Homo sapiens: one gene and its partner. The protein of the gene in region 2 purifies or fractionates together with the protein of the main gene of each other region. This does not show direct contact. Each region holds a gene or a part of one and is shown on either strand. Other genes may lie near its edges.

Evidence for each region.
Region 1: the proteins of FIZ1 (region 2) and ZCRB1 purify together in Homo sapiens (co-immunoprecipitation; one large-scale study listed by IntAct). This does not show direct contact.

Annotation. Positions count from the first base shown.
Region 1 is NC_000012.12:42,313,722-42,316,306, forward strand, and holds part of ZCRB1 (zinc finger CCHC-type and RNA-binding motif-containing protein 1), read right to left. Parts: intron 266-2,585; coding exon 153-265; intron 45-152; coding exon 1-44.
Region 2 is NC_000019.10:55,593,387-55,596,538, forward strand, and holds part of FIZ1 (flt3-interacting zinc finger protein 1), read right to left. Parts: exon of another isoform or gene 2,510-3,152; coding exon of another isoform or gene 2,234-2,509; intron 261-2,233; coding exon 1-260. UniProt on the Homo sapiens protein: May be a transcriptional repressor of NRL function in photoreceptors. Does not repress CRX-mediated transactivation.

The DNA of each region.
Region 1 (2,585 bases), on a different chromosome or scaffold from region 2:
GAGCAGGATCCTCCCCTTCATCTTCACTTTCTTCTACTTCCTCACTTAAATAAAGAAAAACAAATTGGAATGTAACCAACCAATAATCAAAAGCAACCAACCAAAAGACAAAAGCAACATGATGATGTATTTAGTAAGAATAATATACATACATTTCTTCTTCTGGTTCAGGAGCTTTCTTTTTTTTCTTTTTTTCTTTCTTCTTTGGAGGCTCACGTTCTCCGAGCATATTTTTCGGACAGGCATAACTTAAGTGTCCACTTTCCTTTTGTTTCCCATTAAAAAGGAAAGGAAAAATACCATATTTGATGTTATTTATAAAAACTTGCCTGGTACCTTATTACTAAAAAGTTTTCAAATTTAAAAAGGAATATTCCCATACTGGGACTATACAGAAGACATTAATGATAAAACCCAGTACTTTAATATTTAGAAGGTGATATTATAACTCTCAGTTATTTTAACATTTAGGACTATTTAGTAGTTTTACTAAGAGTAGTGGTAGTAGTCTTCTTTCAAACATTTAAATCTCAAAATTCAAGATATAAAACAGTTTGGTCGGGCGCGGTGGCTCACGCCTGTAATCCTAGCACTTTGGGAAGCCGAGGTGGGTGGATCACCTGAGGTCTGGAGTTTGAGACCAGACTAACCAAAATGGTGAAATCCCGTCTCTACTAAAAAAAAAAAAAAAAAAAAAAAAAAAAAAAAAATTAGTTGGGCATAAGTGGCACACACCTGTAGTCCCAGCTACTCAGGAGGCTGAGGTAGGAGAATTGCTTAAACCCAGGAGGTGGAGGTTGCAGTGAGCTGAGATCATTCCGTTGCACTCCAGCCTGGGTGACAAGAGCAAAACTCCGTCTCAAAAAAAAAAAATCAAAATTTAAATGGATCATTTACCCTAAATGTAAACATCTTAAGTTATTGATAAAACGAGGATAAAACTATTCCTGTTAATTTCCAAGATGTTGCTTAATACTCTGTTGGGCTGGGCAGGCTGAGGCAGGTGGGTCACCTTAGGAAGTGAGTTCAAGACCCGCCTGGCCAACATGGGGAAACCCTGTCTCTACTAAATATACAAAAATTAGCTGGGCTTGGTGGCATATGCCTGTAATCCCAGCTACTCAGGAGACTGAGGCACAAGAATTGATCGAACGCGGGAGGCAGAGACTGCAGTGAGCTGAGATTGTGCCACCGCACTCCAGCCTAGGCAACAGAGCAAGACCCTGTCTCAAAAAACAAACAAAAAACCAAAAAACAAATGGAAAATTTCTTCCTCACTTTTCCTATGAATTACTTCCGTTTTTTCCCTTTTATATCCTGACTACACTTGCACTATCCAATTACAGTAGTCACTAGCCAGCCAATGTGGCTACTGAGAACTTGTCTGAATTGATACGTACTGTAAAGGTAAAATACACATTGGATTTCTGAAGACTTAGTAACATACGTGGCTTGCATTATATTCTCATTTGACAATGCTGGACTAGGCTATTATTCCTACTTAGCTAGAACATTGATTTGTAAAACATAAGAGCTCAACTATAATCTGGACATCAGCTCACTACAATTCCATTTAAGAGGTTATGTCAGGGTAGGGTGTGGGGACTGAGCCAAGGTTAGAACAATAGAAGGGAACAATAATCATGCTTTTCCAGTATATTTGACAGAGCAGACAGACTGTGCACTTTGTATACCTAGGACATAGCCCAACTTAAAGAGGTTACTTACTGTTAATGAGCTGCTGAGAAAATAGAGACACATATCTGAAACTGTTTTGGAATAATATTATAGCAAAAAAAAATTAACATATCCCATACTAAAAAAGGATTTAATGAAATAACTTGAGAAAAACCAGGCTAGGTCAATATAAAAAAGTTTTTTTTGGAGGGAGGGAAATTAAATATAAAAATGTAAAAAATATAACAACTCTATGGATCCATAAACCAAAAGGAACCGATTAACAGATTCATCTAGGATTTCTCAGATAATTTAATATTTACTGTGAATATGAAGATATATACTAATCTGAATATAACTACCTTCCCTCCCTCCCTTTCTTTCTTTTACAAAACTCAAAACTTTGGAAAAGTTTCTAAAGTGTTTACTTAAGAGGTTTTAGAATCATAGGAATTGACAGAATCAGTATGTATCCAAGCAACTGCTTGCTCACTCTTTCTATTCATCCATCCATCAGTCTGTTTATTTAGTTATCTTTTTTGTCGGGGGTATGGGGAGTGACAGTGGGGTAGAGGACCTCAAGCCATTTCCTTGCATCTTCCATGTGATTTTGTAGCCAGGACGGTATCTTTCAGTGATTCTCTCCCCAGTTCCCCATTACTACCTCTGGACTCTGTTTTTTAAGTATTTTATTTTATGTTTATTTTTATTTTTGAGACAGAGTCTCCCTCTGTTGCCCAGGCTGGAGTGCAGTGGAGTAATCTCGGCTCACTGCAACCTCCACCTCCTGGGTTCAAGCGAGTCTCCTGCCTCAGCCTTCCAAGTAGCTGGGATTACAGGCACCTGCCACCATGCCTGGCTAATTTTTTTTTTGTATTTTTAGTAGAAACTCAGTTTCACTATGTTGG
Region 2 (3,152 bases):
CCCCAGCTGCCCAGACCCGCGCCTGCCCCCTCGGGGCCCTCTCCGCCGCCGGCCCCTGAGCCCCCGCACACCGAGCAGGGCCCCACATTGCAGCAGACGGAGCAGGGCGCACTCAAGGCGGGCAGGCCAGGGCCGGGCTGCAGGGGAGAGGGGAGAACCCCACGGTGCTGGCGCTTGAGGTGGCGGCCCAGGCTGGAGCGTGAGGAGAAGCGGAGCTCGCAGACCAGGCAGCAGTAGGGTTTCTCACCAGTGTGGACGACCTAGGGGTGCGGGAGGAAGGGCACAACGTCAGGGCTGAGAACCTAGCCCGGACAACGGATTCCTGGACTCCCAGAGGGTTGTGGCACAAGCTCTCTGTCACACCTACAGGGCCATGATCTAGGGAAACGCTCGTCCTATCACTCTCTGTTTGGGGTCACGGTAGATTCTTTCGGTCCTTAAAAAGGCCATGTCCTGGCTGGCCATGGTGGCTCACGCCTGTAATCCCAGCACTCTGGGATTGCATAAGCCTAGGTGTTTGAGACCAGCCCAGGCAACACAGGGAAACCTTGTCTCTACAAATAATTTTAAAAACTAGCTGGACACGGCACACTCCTGTGGTCCCAGCTACCTGGGAGGCTGAGCCAAGAAGTTTGAGGCTGCAGTAAGCCGTGACCATGCCACCACATTACAGCCTGCATGACAGGGTGAGACTGTGTCTCAAAAAAAACAAAAAAACACGACTGGGTGCGGTGGCTCACGTGTGTAATCCCAGCACTTTGGGAGGCTGAAGTGGGTGGATCATTTGAGGTCAAGAGTTCGAGACCAACCTGATCAACATGGTGAAACCCTGCCTTTACTAAAAATACAAAAATTACCCGGGCCTGGTGGCGGGTAGTCCCAGGGACCTGTAGTCCCAGCCACTCAGGAGGCTGAGGTAGAAGAATCACTTGAACCCGGGAGGTGGAGGATGCAGTGAGCCAAAGACGTGCCACTGCACTCTAGCCTGGGTGACAGAGCGAGACTCTGTCTCAAAAAAAAAAAAAAAAAGCCCGGGTGCGGTGGCTCACGCCTGTAATCCTAGCACTTTGGGAGGCCGAGGCGGGCGGATCATGAGGTCAGGAGATCGAGACCATCCTGGCTAACACGGTGAAACCCCGTCTCTACTAAAAATTCAAAAAATTAGCCGGGCGTGGTGGCGGGCGCCTGTAGTCCCAGCTACTCAGGAGGCTGAGGCGGGAGAATGGCATGAACCCGGGAGGCGGAGCTTGCAGTGAGCCGAGATCGCGCCACTGCACTCCAGTCTGGGCGACAGAGCGAGACTCTGTCTCAAAAAAAAAAAAAAAAAAAAAAGAAATCACTATCGGTGGCTAATGGCTATACTGGACAGTGCAGCTCTAAAGTGACACAGCAGCCAGCCCTAGCAGGGTGTGTCTTCTCCCTTGTCAAGCCCTGCTATCCCGAGCCAGTTATCATGAGCTGAATACAGGCCTTAGGTGTGTTAGGGCAGAGAAGTGATTTTGAACCGAATCCGGCTACTGCTCAGAGTTTCTCCCACTGAACGCTTTTCACACATACAGATCCAGGGAATCACTTCCAAGTCTAGGGAATCGAATCTCCCAGGAGGGAGTCCAGGAATCTGTATTTTTTTCTGAGGCATTGCCAGGCTTGTAGACTGTGTAAAACCGTGCCTTAGAGAGGTTTTTTGTATTGATATTTGTCCTTGTTGATTTAAGATTTTGGAATAACAGAGAGAGATTTGTGAGTATGGTAATGTCTTCCTGGAGGCCTGTGAGGAGAAGGGTGAGGCTGGATGAGAAAGAGTGCAGTGCTTGATTAGTAATGTCTGCCAGGGGCACAGATCTGAAGAAGGAACAGGGAGTGATGTTCATTTGCCTTTCTGGCTCCAGACTCGATGCACCTGCTGTACAGTGTGGGTGTAGGGATCTCTATCCTCTTTGTCACTAAATTTATTCTCTCTCTACTCTTTTAACACAACAAGATTATGCTGGTCCCAGGGCCCTTGTACATGCTGTTCTCACTGCCTGGAATGCCCGTAGGTCTATTTATCTGTCAGCTCCTTGGAAACCCTTCCCGGAATCTGGCCCCCTGGCTCATCAGTGATCCTCTTCCACCCTCCTTCTTTAAAGCCTATGGCTCATAGCACACTTAGTGTCTACATATAACTTGAGTGTTGTCTGTCTCCCCACCAGCTAAGGACGATAAAAATAGTGACCACATTGGTTTTGCTCACAGCTGTATTTCCAGGGTCCGGCACTCTCCAGACTTCTCCTGAGCCACACTTTCTGCTTCTCCATGCTCCAGTCACATTGGCCTTCCTCCAGTTCCTCCAAAGCCTGCTTTGCTTCCTTGAAAGTACACATTTTGTTCCCTGGATCCGGAAAGCCTCGGACCCCAGAGGCAGATCATTCCTCACCTTTTTCTCGGGAAAACCATCCCTGACCCCATCCCCGATCCAGACTGCTTCAGCTCTCTCTTGCATTAGCCTCAGAATATGGTTATCCTCCATCCTCAGATGTCTCGGCTGCAGCCTAACATTGATTAACCTAGTTGTTCAGTTCACATCTCCCACATTTGACTCGAGGCCATACAAAGGGTGGACTGTATCTGTTTTGTTCCCTTAGCTATTTTTTTTCCCCCAGAGAGCCTAGCACTGTATCTAAATACAGTAGGTGCTCCTGAAATGGTTCAGTTGAATCACAACCTACTGGTGGGTGGGGGTGAGGCCCCTCAGGGGACTGTCAATTGTTGCATCAAGCTAAGGAGCTCCCCTTTCATCCTAAGGATCAAGGGATTTAAGCAGGGGTCACCTGGTCACTCTGTGATAGATGCAGAGACTGGATGTGAGGGAGAGAGACAGGAAGGAGGGAGACCACTGAGAAAGCCGGGGCCAACATTCAGGATGTGAAGTCCTGAACCAAGGCAGATGCATGGGGACAGAGAGGACAGCCAAGTGTGAAAGACCATCGGTAGATGCCTGGTTTTCTTCACCCTGGTTGTGCAAGTGTCTGGCACATAGACAGAGTGTGACCTAGCCCGTCCCATCTTTCACCTTACCTCCTTCCACCCCAACCCCACAGTCTCCCATCGCTTCCTGGAACACAGCACACTCCTTCCTTCCTCAGGGCCTTTGCACTTGCTGTTCCTGCTGC